Linked DNA regions of Homo sapiens: region 2 is linked to region 1. Evidence: fine-mapped expression QTL. Tissue or cell type: testis. Region 1 holds a variant in brackets; the other region holds the start of a gene. All regions are shown on one strand. Distances are from middle to middle.

Region 1 (8,115 bases):
TTTAGTAATACTTTAGTAATACTTTCTGATCATAATCTTAAAAGGTTCATTACTTGTGAAAAAGTAGATACTTGAAAAATAAAATTTTTATATTATGGAAACTATAAAATCAAGTCTTATCTCAGTTTTAATCTTCAAATAAAAAACTTCACCACCTAAAATTTGGACAAGGGAGAGAAACACATATTATCTCTCTCTACATTTAATCTTTAATTTGCAAGATGATGTTACTCTTTTCTATTACCATTTATTGAAAAGTGGATGCTCTCAAGTTAATATATTATAGATTAGAAATAATATTTATTTAAATATCAGAAATAGGCCAGGCATGGTGGCTCACACATATAATCCCAACACTTTGGGAGACCAAGGTGGGAGGATTACTTGAGCCCAGGAGTTTGAGACCAGCCTGGCCAACATGGCAAGACTCCTTCTCTACAAAAATACAAAAAATTAGCCAGGCACAGTGTTGGGGGCCTGTAGTCCCAGCTGCTCAGGAGGCTGAGCAGGGAGGATTCCTTGAGCCCCAGGAGATTGAGGCTGCAGTGAGTTAGGATCATTCCACTGTAGTCCAGCCTAGGGGACAGAGTGAGATCCTGTCACACAAAAAAAGTAAATAAATAAATTTAAAAATTAGGTCGCTAATTTAAGTCGCTAGTAAGAGTATGAAAAATGACAGAATTAAATTCCCATTGTATTTTCTTCTCCAAATAAGAAGTACTGAATTCTGAATTGGCATAAGTGTATATTATTCTTTAGTCAGCATCTTTAAGGTCTGTTTTAGAGAATGAATAAACGTTTTTTACTATATTTTACTTGAGTAAATATTTCTTTAAATTAAACATCAAGGTACCAATACTATGTGGTCTCAGAATTAATTTCTTTAATTTATGAATTCATGTAGACAGCGTTTTAAAATCAAGTTCAGATGTTTTAAAAAATCTGCGTTTTCTTTACTAGCGGCTGTTAACATCAATAAAGAGAAAAATCATTTGAACATCAATTATTAATGTCTACTTATGATTTTTTTATTACTTAAACTAAGCTGCCACTAAAAAAATTGAGTAAGAAGGATGGGAAAATAGAATCAGTGGAAATATTTGTATTTAATATAGAGTATTTCTTATCCCTAAACATTTAAAATATAGAGAAAGCCTGTAAGAACACAGATACTATACATTTTTGCAGATAGTGCAAATTGCACACTGTCCAATTGCCTTTTTATGTTTGTTTCCTTTTCTATGTCTTTTTACTGATTATGTTTTAAAAGAGTAATACAAAACGAATTTCCAGCAGAGCTGGTTTACACATGCTACCTCTAAATAAGGATAGCATTTTTCCCAATCAAGTTGCTTTGTATTACCAAGAAAAGTAATATCATAAAAGAGAGAGATGTTACTCAAAGAGTACTCTCTATATATTCCAGAATATTTACATCATCAAAATAACCTGAGTTTAGAAAATAAAGCAGAAAGTTGGCAAATGGGAATTTAGTTTGTTTTAGGAATGCAAAGAAAACTGAGTAAATGAAAGTATGGAAGCCTTCACAGTACTAAAGCAGCTTAAAAGAAAGAAGTCCTGAATGCCTGTCGTTGTTCTTTTTTGATTGCTTTATTTTATTGTTCTACTGTTTGCCTTTTTAATTACCTGTTTATTGATGGTGGGTTGCAATAATTTGAGAGGTGTGGCACAAGTTATAACTAATAGATACAAGTATGTTCATATTAGGTTACTAAGTGATTAGCTTCGTTTTCAAATCAATTAAAGTAAATTTAGAGTTATTCTGGTAATAAGGCACTTAACATACACTTGCCATCTGGTGGCATTGCTTAGTGGGAAAAGAATGGAATAAATTACATGTTTTCTGTAACATCTATGACACAGCCTATAATCTGCAGAAGCTCATCTAGTTGTCACTCCTGTGAATGCCATTCCCTTGTGTCGCACATACAGACACCTATCACTGAATGTAAGCACTATGGTTTTAGGAGGCTATGCTAAGTTGAAATATATGTTTCACCAGTTATCTCCTGAGTACAGTGATTCTAATGATTTCATTTTGTTTTTTCCTTCACATTATGTTCCTCAATTTTAAATTTATCCTTTTTTTTCTGCAGACTGTCTATTTAGCACCCCTTATAAATAAAGCTTTTAAGATATTAAGGAGCTTAATAATAGGTGAATCAGTTGGACGAATGTAGGAAAAAATAGTACTTAATCTAAAAATGCATTAATAAGAAATTGAGGTTTTTATAAGATTGTCAAGTAAATTATGGCACGAATTTTGTACTATAGAAGAAAGATGATTCTGTGTCTGTTTTTAAACATCAATATTTCTGCTAAGGGGAAGGGGCCTTTCAGACAACAAGTATTAAGGAGGCCACAATACACTGTAAAAGTGCATGTGAAAATTTATGCTGTTATACGTCAAAGTAAGCACTTGGATTAAGGAATAATTAGAAAACATTATGGAACAGTTAAGTAATAAGAAAATAATACGGGTTGAAATTATTATGGTCTGTAGGCAGAGGGTACATGCTTTATTTTTTCAGCTGTAATTATTATAGCAATTATAATTTAATTCATCACCACCCATGTACTAACTGTGTATTTTAATTATTCAGTAGGGAGGTACTGTAAACTGTGTTTATGACTCTGGTCTACTCGAGGATCAGCCCCATGATATTTTTCTCCATAAAACTTACCAAATATAATATTCTTTTTTACAAAATTATTTATTGCTTATCTTTATGAGTTTGTATAAATGTTATCAGTCAGAGTATTCTAGGTTATATTGCAGTAACGAGGTGTCTCAGTATAATTATTTCTTTTCACACTACAAGTGAGAAAATGACAGCAGGTTAATCTCCTTACTTAAAAGGCCTAGATTAAAGAGGGCTCTGTGTCAAAATGCAATCCTTAAATAAACAAAGTAGGAAATAACAGAATGTGATAAGCTGTGTTCTGATTCTTAACATTTCTGTCCCCAAGTTAGATATTTTGCTCCCATTAATATTTTCTTGGCCAACGAAAATCACATTACCAAAAATAACTTCTACAGGTGGCCATTGTAGTACAATGCACCATACACCTCTGAGGTAAGATCTAGAAATATTTGATGAACAGCACTGATTGATTTCATAATTGTAATCCAAAAGTATGGGAAGTAAGATACTTGAAATAAATTGAGAATGTATCCAATTACATGATTAATGCTTTGAGGTAAGTCATTCCATGTCATTCTAATGTCATAGTCCCATGCCAGAGCATTTAAACCTAACACTCTTGGGATAGAGCTTGAATGTTTGTAGTTTTTGTAAGGTCACCTCATGATTCTAAGGTACATTCCTGATTGAAAACCACAGTTGTAAAAATGCTTCTTGGTAACACATTTGTCTCTGTCAAATACATTCATTTAAATCATTATTGCATGTCTGCTATGTTATAGCATGTCATAGCATGCTATGTTATAGCATGTCTGCTATGTTTCTGCAAATTAGTAGTTAATAAACTAAGATTTTCTAGGAGATGAATCCATGTTTTAGGTACAATACTAAGTACCTAAAACAAGAAGTGTTTAGTCAACTGTCTAAACACATAATGTAAATCATCTAATTATTTTTCAAAAGATGTAACACTATTAAGAGGAGATAATAAGAAATATAGTTGTCATTGTATATTGCTTAACATTTTGTCATATTTAGTAAGGCAAGCTTTAACCAGACATAAGAATCAACA[T/C]AATATTTCAGCCAGTTCCAATCAGTTAAATTAGTGCTAATTTGGTTGAAGTTTATTTAGTAAAAAGTAATACATTCTAAATTCTAACATATTTAATACAATCTTTTTTTATTTTTCAACATAAAGTTATAATAAAGATTTTTAGAAAAATTTTTATGACTTATAACATATTTATAGTACATTCTTGCATTGTCAATCTTTACAAAATTGATCTTTCTTATTAGAATAGTCTATGTTTTAAATCTGGTCATAGAAGTTTTCAAGCTAATTCTCTCTCAAACAAGTTAAAAGGTGCCAAATTACACATTCTTTGAAAATGAGCCAATTTAAAGTCCTTGTTTCAGCCCCAAATTGTCATGATATTAATGTTGAAATGGCTTGCTGATTTTCATTACTAGCACCTGAGACAATTTTAAGAAAAAATAATTTGGAATAAATAATGGTATAACATTTTCCAAGCAATAGTTTGTAGATTCAAAAGAACGTCAATCCATTTATTCTTCTAATTTTCCCAACACTATACCACACTAAGTGAAATAATCAAACTCATCTAATTTTTACCCTTTTCTTACAGACAAGATTTCTACAGAATACTAAGGCTTTTCTCTATCATTAATAGAAAACAAATACTCAATTGAACACTTGACTATTCTCTTCAGAATTATATATGAAAGTAATTCATTTTTAATTAATTTTTAAATTATTAATAATTATCAATTGTTAATTAAATTCTGTTTTTTAAAAAGACACCTACAAAAAATATTTGGAATTTAATATCAGTGAGTGAATTTTTCTACTGACACCAAATTATAAGTCACCGAGAAGAAATAGAAATTTAAAATACTTAGCAAAGAAAAATTACTACAATATATTCTAGATAACTAGAGTCACAAAGGTGCATTATGACCTTTAAATTTTAAAAAAATTATATAAAATTTTATTTTTCTTTAGAACCTATTTTATATTTATCTGGGAAAAAATGGTGCATGAATTACAAGAAACAAACAACTCAAAATGTATAAAATATTGCAGATGTATTCAAACCTTCAAGCAGATATTCAGAACTAAAATTATGTTAAATTATCTTATTTTGCAAGTATATTATTTAAAACAATGTTAGTCTAAATTCATGTAACAGGAAAAGAATAAAACTATTTTGGGTAACCAAATTCTTAGCAAGTAAATAAACTTTGGTCTCTCAAAAAAGATTTCTAAATTTATTATTTAGAGTCACAATCACCATCATAACTTGCTTACATGAAGAGGGAACAGTAATATGTTTCCATAAATAAGGGGTTGCTCTTACTGGACACCCTTCCTTAGAGAATTAACACACAGTGATTAAGAACAAACAGTTGTTATAACAAAGACCAGGTTTACAGAATTAGTTTGGCCATTTATTGGAGTGCGTTTCTTGTGGTTAAATATTAAGCTACTCGGTCTTTAAATACCCTCACCAATGAACTTTGAGTAACGATACAAATATTTGAAGGTTGATAGAAAATTAAATTAGATAATGTGTGAATATATCTTAACACAGTATCTGCAAATGAGTGAATGCCATATAGATTTAGCTATTATATTCATTATTTTTACCATTTAATCACTTTTATTTTTTTCATAGAAAAATAACTCTCCAATAAGGTTACTATTGATTAGTATTAAGTAGGGAAATACATAGAGATGTTTTATTTTTAAAATTGCATGTGTGTGGTAGAGGAAAGAGACATCCAATAACATTAAAAGTGCACAGCCAGGTTAGACACATAAACATTAAAAATTCTCTAAGAAATAATAAAATTTAAATTTTTGGTTTTAATGACATTGAAAGAGAATGTCCTATTGTGAACAGTGAGAGGTTTGCAAAAACACTACAAAAGTTAATAAAGAGCAGTTTGTTTGCTTATTTTAGATTTAATAATTTTATAGAACACAAATTGCTCCTTCAAAATTATGAAAATTTAAAATCCACATGTTTTAAAGGGTGGCAAGAGTTTGAGCAATTCGGATAGCCCTATTTGACTTATTTACCTCATCTGTCTAGGAATAATATTAGTTCTTATGCTACAGTATTATTTTCACAGTGAGATAAGCCACACATGAACCCATAACACAGTGCCTGGCTGTGAACACTCAGTAAGTTAATAATTAACAATTAACACTCAATAATTAAAACCTAATAATGAAAACTCAATAAATTACTATCTTTATATTTAAAGCTGTTTAATGAAAGTATTTCTCTAACTTTGTAATTTCACGCTTTTTTTTTCTTAAAAAATGTAAGGCTTTAAAATGTTTTATAGTATGCTTCAACCTTTACTCCTAACAATCAATCTCATAAATTCAGGTGGGTAAGTTCCATTTGAGCAAGCTTACTTCTATTGAGATTTGAAAAGTATATGTGACCTGTAAATGTTATCAGAAACAGTAACTCTATTTGACAAATGGCCTAATCACTCCACTCTAGATCAACACATTTTTCTTGTTATAATAAAATGTCTCTTCTAAGAGTGCATATGGATTTTAACTTTCCTGAATTTCTATAAATTTTTAGCTACTTTATAATACAGCTTTGTCCTGGAAAACTGAAATGTTCCATGAGGTAAATGCTCACCCTATTTTGCTGCATGCCACACAAAAGTCACTTTCAAGGTTCAGAGAATAACTATTCTTTGGCTCTTTTTTTGACAATTGTCAGTTTTTGAAAATGCACAAACCTTCCTTCTCATTGAAAGGAAACATGGAACATTCAATATCAGGGGTCAGCTCAACATTAGGAGGCTATTTAAAAGCATGGCCACATTTCTCCTGGTATAAGTCACTTGCCAATTTAGAAGGAAAACCAGGCTGTACCAGAACTTTAAATGTCCAAAAGTTTCTTTAATCATATTATAGATTTTCACAGTGGTGTAACTTTAATTTTTATAATGTAAGTTAAGTTAAAAATAAACTACAATTTTACTGCATTAAATTATCACTTCTAACAAAGATGTGCTCTTGCAGCTGATAATGATTCTCTTTAATCTCATTTATTTCTCAGGTTCCTTAAACTTTAGGCCAGGTGGCGGCTCATGCCTATAATCCTAACACTGTGTCAGGCAAAGGCAGGAGGATTGCTTGAGCCCAGGAGTTTAAGACCAACCGGGGCAACATAGTGAGACCCTGCCTTTGCAAAAATAGATGTAAAAAATTAAAAAAAAAAAAAGCTAGGCATGGTGGCATGCGCCCATAGTCTCAGCTACTCAAGAGGCTGAGGCGGGAGGATCCCTTGAGCTCAGGAGTTCAAGGCTGCAGTGAGCTATGATCATTCCACTACACTCCAGCCTGAGTGACAGAGTGAAACCCTGTCATTATTTAACAAAAAATAAAGCAAAAAAAACAAAAAACAAAAAACAAAAAAAAAAACAACCTTTACATTTAAAATTTATCTTCCCTGATAAGTTATTCTTCACAGCTTGGCCTGAATTCTGATCCTTTCTTTATCTGTGATAACTCCAGTATTACTCTGCAAATGCTAAAGTTGATTGATTGGTGTGCAATTACATTTCAGGTAGTTTTAAGTTGTTCACTTTTAAAATATTTTGATGTAAGATATTAATATAAATATTGCCTTGTGCACAAAATGTGAAGTAATGCAAGTCTTTAAGATGTTTTTAAGGTCTCAAGATCACATACTTTCAAAGCTGTGGTTGAAATGACTTATAAACTACATTTAAACTACTGACACATGCATGACAGACCCACTTTAAAGAAAAGCTTGTAAAGAAAACCAGTCACTCTTCAACAGCAATAGGTGCAACAAGCTGTTATTTACATGGTGCTAATATTTTACATGCATTATAATTTTATAATTTAAACTAATTTAAGATGGTATTAAATTGATTTCCAATTTTCAAACGTGGGCATGTTAGTGTTAGTACTTTACAATCTCTAACTTTAATACAGAATAGCATGATTATATGCTATGTAAAAGCCTTAAACGTTCCATCTTGTGCTGCTAAGTTTGGAGTAGGGACTCAGATATATTGGTGGAAAACTGAAAAATAAAAAGTAAACTGAAAACTCTTACAAAATTCAGCCTGCAAATACTGTATTGAAGGGCAAGAGAAAGGAAATGATATTTGCCACATGGTTGTAAGATCAAAGCTGCTATAATGTATCACTAAGTCAAGGAGACCTATGTTCTAAGGTAGAGTGTATACTTGACAATTTAAGAGGAGGTGACAATAAAACAAAATGTTCTATATCAGGTTTTATTGTGCTTAAAAACTATTTGCAAAAGCAAAATCACGTTACCAGACACAACAAATACATCCTCCCTACTTTACATGTATCCTTATGGGAAATATTACTCCTGAATCATAATCCAAGATTTTC
Region 2 (8,115 bases), 340 kb after region 1:
AACAAACATACCTAAAATAAGAAAGATATGCACTACTTAAAACTTAGAGAACCCAGAAACTTATTTTCCAGGTGTAAGCATTCTGTGCTTCTAAGCGCCTGTAGCTCTGGCATGCATGAGATCATTACTAGGGGCAGAAAAAGGAGCCTGTGGGCCTTGTACCCTCTTTTTCAGGAAATTTGCTAACATTAAAGCCCTGCCATGCACAAAAATGGTGGATTTACTATTCTGTTTGATTCCCCATGTGTACAGTTTTTGCTGTGCCCTCACTACAAGTTTTTTGCTTAGAAAATCTCAACAAGAATCATCTAAAGTCTCTTTTATGAGCTGAATAAATGGTTCTGTTGCCTTCCTACTTGATAGATTCTCCTCACTTCAAATTTTTGATGAAGTGGTCTTTAGACTCATAATCCCCCCAGGCCTTTTGTTCTGATCTCTCCATTACCAGCCATCTATTAACTTCCCACCCTCTTCAGCTCCTGGAGTGTTTCTAATTTTCTTAGTCCTTAATCCTTCACTAGAAATATATTCCTGCTTTGCAGAAATGAGAATTATGTCATTCATACTGAATCATCCCCTGGAGAGGATAAAATAGATTTACAAAAAACATAGAGCCTGGTATGTAGGGAACTTCTCTCCTCCAATTCCTATGTTGTATCTTTGAGCCATTAACATTTCTAGATTGTGCCTTCCCTACTATCCTGGCGTGGTACAGGGCTTCAAACAGGACTTTCTACCCTGGACGTTCTGCTCTCATCAGCAATTTAGGGGCGGCGAGTACTAAACTGGTTTCTGGTCCAAGCAGAATAAGATTCTAGGGAGAATTTGGCAGATACTAAAGACTGGCCTTTTTTATACACTCACAGAAAGGAAGCCATAAACCAGAATGTGTGAAGGAATATGATGGAAAAAATATATGAAAACTCTGTCTATAGCATCTTATTCTACTTTCTGTACCTAATATTACTCAGTGTACTCATGACTCCATAGACAAAATGTCATAAATTTTTATTCAGTAAAGTTTGAGTTCTTGCTAAATGCTAGGTGCTTGCAATTGAATGATGTATCATGTGTTAGGTAAAGTTGAAAACACATAGATTCTGATGAAAAGAAGCTTGATGCCTCATGAGAGCCTCTGCTTTCTAGTTACTAATAATCTGTTAGGGTACATCATTCAGAGTTGGTCTCTTATGCCCCATGTTCTAAGCATTTTTTTCCCTTTTTCCTTTAAGATTTTCTTATCAGTGTCCCGTTTTATTTTTTCTATAATAGTCTTAGGGATCTGATAAACTAATCTGATCCAAGGTGTTAATAAATAATTGTACCAATGTTTGCCTCACCAAGTTAATTTAATTATTTAATTATGTAACTTAAAGAGGTTAAGTAATGTGTTGAAGTTACAGAGTCAGTAGAGAAAGCATTTTTAACTCTTTGCCCTTTTGTCGTAAAACCTTATTTTGAAGCACTATTTATCCAACATTAGAGGTGAATAATCTTTACTCACCATAAGGAATTGGTTTCTGGCAATAAGACTATTTATGCCTGAAAAATATTTCCACTCTGAGACTTTATACTGGTTAAAAGCTCATATTGGAATTTTAGAGCTTTCTAGAAGAGTTCCCACCATTTACAAAATGGAAAAAAAAATCAAAGTAAACTTGATCCATTAATCATGGATAACCAAACTCTATGAACTGGGAAAACGTGTTTCAGATATTTCAGATGTATTAAATCTAATATGATCTAGATGTATTGTGGGTTTTTTTTCATGTTGGTAGGAAAACAAACAAACACACAAACAAAAATAATCAGCTAACAGATGTACCCTTGACTAGCTTTCAGAGAAAGGGATCAAGGGTTGAGTTTCAATTTTTTTTTTTTAATGAAAATCCTACATACTTTAAAAGCTACAAACCTGTTTAATCAAACTAAATCTGTAGAACAGGAAGATAGTTTTTGATATTAAAGTTTTGACTTTTCTTGGAGGCTACCTAAAAAGTTACATAGCATGAAAATTTGGCACTAGGAAATGAAACTTGAAAAACATGATTCTGACAGGGTGCCAACATTTTATAGAGGCTAAAAGCAACCATTTTATTCAGAAGCTCAGCTTGGTGGTGAGCAACCTACGACTTTGAAGACTAAATAGGAAGGCTCTTCCTAGGTAGACTTCTTTTCTTTTCTCCAGGATCCAAATGGGCTACTTGAAATATCTACAAGTCGTTCATCTAAACAGCAGTGCATCATTACAAGAGCTAATTGCTCATTATTTTTGCAGCCTAGTTTAAAGGAAATACATGAAAGATTTCTCAGAGGGTTCATGTTTCAATTTTGAAGCCTGGGGTGAAAGGACTTAGACTGTGATCCATTGTGAGAGCTGACTAGCAAATAGAGCCTGTTGCAAACACCCACTGTGCCCCATGTTCTAAAAGAATACAAGCCCACTGTGTCAGCAGTTGTATCAGGCCCACATGAATGAACTTTCAGAATGACCATTTTATTATGTGTATCTAAAAATGAGACAAACCCATATGCCTGGGGTATGGGTCTTCAGAAATGAGGAGGCATCAAGGCCTGTGGTTTGATTAAGCATTTTACCTTATTTTAGAAGGGATGATGTCTGTGAGATCAAACTAAGACAGGTCCCTGCTTGTTCTCTATGAATCTGACATGCATTCATACAGAAGGGATACTAATAGGCTGCTGAGCTATTAATGAAATTCAATTTCAAACCATGTTTCATGGCCAACCGTGCTGGTTGGATGCAAGAACAACAAGCACAGCACTTTTAACAGCCCTCTCTGGATGAATTAAATAAGGATGATAGAAAAATCCCATGTATAGCAAATAAAAAGACATTGAATAATGGAATCAGACCAGGCGGCAAGGTAGTTCATTGTCAATATCTTACGATCGTAGAATATAAGCCTCTACAGTGTTTGGGCATTCTGTGATTCATGAAATGATAAAAACAATGAGGTGAAAGACAGTACACTTGTTTTTTTTAATTCTTATAGTTATCTCATAAAAATGAGGAAACTGACAATTTTTTAGTACCATAAAATGTCCCATTGAAATTTCACTAAATACTTAGCTAAAATTTTACATCTTTGACCTACTGTTTGGGCATTCTGTGATTCATGAAATGATAAAAACAATGAGGTGAAAGACAGTACACTTGTTTTTTTTAATTCTTATAGTTATCTCATAAAAATGAGGAAACTGACAATTTTTTAGTACCATAAAATGTCCCATTGAAATTTCACTAAATACTTAGCTAAAATTTTACATCTTTGACCTACTGTTTTTCCTTCTTTTAATGGACAAAAGCTTTCTCCTTTTCAATTAAATGTGATAGGTCATATGCATGTATATTATTATTTTACATGTAATATTTAGATTTTTTTAATTTAAATTATAACACGGCAATCCTCCATTATTTTTTTTATTTGGTAGGATTCAATAGTTGCTTTTACTCCTTCCATTTCTACTACAAATTTACATTTTACTCAAATATTCTTATATTTACATTTTACTCAAATATTCTTATATTTACCCAATTAATATTATTTTATATACTTACGTATATTTATATACATATATTTTATATACTTATGTGTATATTATATGTAATCACCCTTTAAATCCAATAGTATGATTGATTGCAGGATGCATTAACTGAAAAACATTTTCTTAATGTGGGACATTTTCTTTTCAATCACAGTTTATATTTAATATGTACATAGCTTTAATTTTTTGTAGCTTTCTTTTCTTTCTCTGTTACTTTTGTTAAAATTCAAGCAATAGAATTCGAGAACTTTCATATCAAAAACATATCATATTATTTATTCCTTAACTTTCATTTCACAGGTAGATAATTAGGGTTCAGAGATACAGTCAAAGACTGGCAGTAAAGGTCAACAGTATATTCCTAAAAAATAAGTACTGGGGATCTAATCTCCTTAGTTCTTATTTTTATAATCTAAGCCATAATATTGGCAATGAGCAAATAATAATCTTAAACTAAATTGTTTCGTCTGAGTTTAGTGCTCTAGTTTTTCAAACTGCTCATTGCTTCTCTGATGAATAGCCCTTTAAAAAGAGGTGACACGGAGTTAAGATATAAAAGAAGTCAGAATTAGTATATATATCTCCAAGCTATCTGTCACTTCTCCTTTCTTAACCCAGACTGATCGATCGGTTGATTGATATAACCCAGCACTATGCATTCCTGATGCGTATTTGAATCAATTCCTGTTTCGGATTACTAATTGGCCTGCTTCCTTCTCCTAATTGCACTTTGTGAGGACTACTCTAGGCAACCAGCTTTGTGAGCTCATTAACAGCTTTGTTCAACCTCAGGGAGGTTAAGGCACTCACTCAAGGTCACACACCTAGTTAATAGGGAGTCTAGCTTCAAACCCACATCTGACTGAATCTAATTCCACCTACAGCTTTGAAGGCTCAGAAAACATAACTGCTTGAAAAACTGAGTTAACTCTATGACTGCCAGGACAAAAGCTTAGGATTTAGAAATGAAACAATGAATAAGTAGACATTTTGCTCTCATTTTGTTATTTTTTACTTTATTTTCCAAATATGTTTAGGTTAAAGAAAAGAACATGGGATTTAGAGTCAAATAGGCAGGTGTTTTGATTCTACCCTTGCTAACCCTGTGACCTTTGGTAAGTGTTTAAACTCTCATAGCTTCAGTATTTTCTCTACTCTGATATACACATGGGTTCTTCGTACATAATATGTTCTCCGTAAATGTTATATAAAGGCTTCATAAGAAAATGAATAATGTACCTAATTATAGCTACAGCTTTGCAAATTCAGTGCATTTAACAACAATGATAATCAACTTACACGAGCACAAATTAAAGTAACCCTCCTTCAGGTTTTCTAATATATTCTAGTTTATAGGTATATGTACTGTTTCTACTTATCAAGGCTTGAAACATAAGTGTTGAATTCTTAGTCTTTAATGCTATGACATTTGGGCGATGAACAGATTTTGATAATTGTACCCATACCCCTACAATATCTTTCATATGTACCTGCTCCTTGCTTTCCATTCTCATTCCATTTCTGCCGATGTATTGCAGTGATTCTTATAATCATTCACAAAAGTTTACTGACTGCTCACTATGATCTTGTTGAGAAAAATATTCCCTACCTGCACTTTTCTAATTTGTCTTGAGTTCTTAAGTTTTGGAGGTTACATTTTTTGAAGTAAGGATTCTCTTTCTCCCTTTGTTTTTATTGTTTTTAGATAATATTTGTCAGAAACTGATTTCATTTGAATAACTCTTTACTGACATAGGACTTCCTTCCTTCCTTCCTCCCTCCCTCCCTCCCTCCGTCCCTCCCTCCCTCTCTCTCTCCCTACTTTCTGTCCTTCCTTCTTTTTTTTCTCTGAGTCTTGCTTTGTCACCCAGGCAAAGTGGCGCAATCTTGGCTCATTGCAACCTCCACCTCCTAGGTTCAAGTGATTCTCCTGCCTCAGCCTTCCTAGTAGCTGGGACTACAGGTGCTCACCACCACGCCTGGCTGATTTTTGTATTTTTTTTTTTGGTAGAGACAGAGTTTTGCCTGCAGTGAGGTGTTTGGCCAGGCTGATCTCAAATACCTCATGTCAGGTGATCTGCCTGCCTCAGCCTCCCAAAGTGCTGGGATTACAGGCGTGAGCCACAGCGCCCAGCCTGACACAGGACTTTCATGTCTCATAAATATTTCTGTTCTTTATCTTATGGTTTAAAGATTATTCTAGTCAAGATATATATTCTGGATATAGTTAAAATCATTAATTTTTCCTTAAAATTTTGTAAAGTTTGAGTCACATTTGGCTTAACCTTTACATAATGTTTTGTTTTAGTCATGTACATTTATTTGCTAAGTGTTTCTATTCAAAGACAGCCTCCTCTTCTTCACCAACCATCTATTGTGATCTATTACAGCATGGTTGCTATAACCATGTTGGTTTTTATCACATATGTCTTCTTTATATCTTTATTTTATTAATTCATGATTACGAAGCCATGAATTTTCTTGGCAACTTCTTATTAGACCTGAACTATTTCTTTGTCCTTTCAAAGTCCCAGAGAACACTAGAAATACCAAGTTACTGTTGACTTTCCAGTACCTTCAGAAAATAAATAGCACACTGTTTCTTTTGTTGTTTTTTAAGGTGAGTATTTATCAAAATCATCAGTAAACATGATTTTGACAAACATACATTTATGCTTACTCACTACTTTCTTTATCATTTTCTTATCTTACCCTGATCTAAATGGAAGACTAGAACAAACATTGTGCCCCCTTCATCATCTGGATCCTTATAAAATAATTTGACCCATGAAATCTTATCTCTTTTGCTCACAAACTTCATAAGTGAAAAATGAACTTATGATTTTGTTTTTGTTTTTTTTTGAGAAGGAGTCTAACTCTGTCACCCAGGCTGGAGTGCAGTGGTGTGATCTCTGCTCACTGCAACCTCCACCTCCCGGGTTCAAGTGATTCTCATGCCTCAGACTCTTGAGTAGCTGGGATTACAGGCGTGTGCCACCATGGCTGGCTAAGTTTTGTATTTTTAGCAGAGAAGGGCTTTCACCATGTAGGCCAGGCTGCTCTCGAACTTCTGTCCTCAAGTGATCCATCCACCTCGGCCTCCCAAAATGCTGGGATTACAAGCCTGAGCCACGGCGCCTGGCCAGATTTATACTCTTTTTTGATAGAGGGTCGCAGACCCCTCTATTCTCTCCTGTGATCTGAGATATTTCCTTCTCAGGCCTTCGATAATCATTAGTTTTGAGTGTGAGCTGAGGAGAAGAGGAAGTTAAGGAAGATTTGTATCTAAGCCATGCATTATCTGATTTTCCACCATTTCTTATACTGATATTTTAGGTACAATCATAAATTATCAAATGCTACCTTGCTTTTCTTTGTGACCAACCATTTTGTTTTTTCTCTCCCCAGGGATATTTCTAAATAATTGAGGGTTGTGGCCTACAATTCTGTTTTTCCTAGTTTCCCCCCAACCCAATAATGTTATTTAATTACCTTAATTAATAACTGCTTTGTTTTGACCAGTGCAATGACCAGTATGATTCTGAATATATACATAGTTCCAAAATAGCATTAGTAGCTATTGGATCTTTAAACAATTAATCTTTTTTTCTCTCATTTCTGTTGAAGACGTTGCTAGACAAAGTTGTAAAAGAGGTTCTGTGATAATCTCCTTGACAACAAAATATGTTCAATGGATATCTATGAACCTAGAGAAATATGCATCCTGGATTGTAGTTCTCAAAAAAATAAATGTTGACAAAAGCATTTAGTATACATATGCCCTGCTGCTTTAATTCTTTTGTGAGTTCTCATACAGTTTGTAAGGTTTCCTGTATTGTATGTATATAATAAATTTTAATGAAAACCTGAAGCAATATTTGATTGCCCTAAATTTATCCTTCCATATGATCCAGGTTGTTCCTTGGATATTTATAATTCCGGAACTAGAATTTATAACACATACATCAGTCTCAATCATTTCTATTTTCTCCTGTGCATCCTCTGAGTGCAAGAATACCAGTATCTAAATATAATCCTCAGTGTTCCATTTCAGCCAAGTCCTTTGCAGAGAAATATTAGCTTTCACATAAGCCTTTTTTTAAAATCTTGTTATTCTTCACAGTGTGATGGTTCTCCCTGTCACTGAATAGATCTTCATTTAGGAATTCACTATGTTATGATTTTTGTCCCTTAAATTTAGGCACAGTTTATAATAACACTGAAGATGAGTTTATTCTTTAAAAGAATAATGGAACATAATACATTTATCCACATTTATTCACATAAAATAACTCTACATGCCTTGTGGGTTTATGTTGTGTTATATTTTTTCAAGTGTTCCTATGTGTGTTCATGGGAAAATCTAGAGCTGCCTGCCCTGTTTTGACTCACAGAGCAAAGAGAATAGCAAGTGCAAAAAAAGTAATTCCTAATTTTACATAGAACAGTGTTCACTATTCACAATGATTAAAAGGAGGGTTTTTCATAGTTACTAAACATCACACAAATACACATGTGAATACAAGTATTTTAGTTGTTAATTTT

The links. PIP is the estimated chance that this variant, and not a neighbour inherited with it, causes the effect. A credible set is the group of variants that fine-mapping cannot tell apart.
Region 2: LINC00358 starts here. The variant in region 1 is the best candidate, but not a certain one, in a credible set for the expression of LINC00358 in testis (GTEx, PIP 0.59).

Annotation. Positions count from the first base shown.
Region 1 is chr13:62,369,662-62,377,776 of GRCh38, reverse strand. No RefSeq gene overlaps it. Among named protein-coding and RNA genes, the nearest start is that of LINC00459, 50 kb to the right of the region's middle. The variant T/C (reference allele first, on the strand shown) is at 3,739.
Region 2 is chr13:62,025,829-62,033,943 of GRCh38, reverse strand. LINC00358 (long intergenic non-protein coding RNA 358) reads left to right here and starts at 4,396. Exons shown (of 2, transcript NR_046995.1): 1 at 4,396-4,685.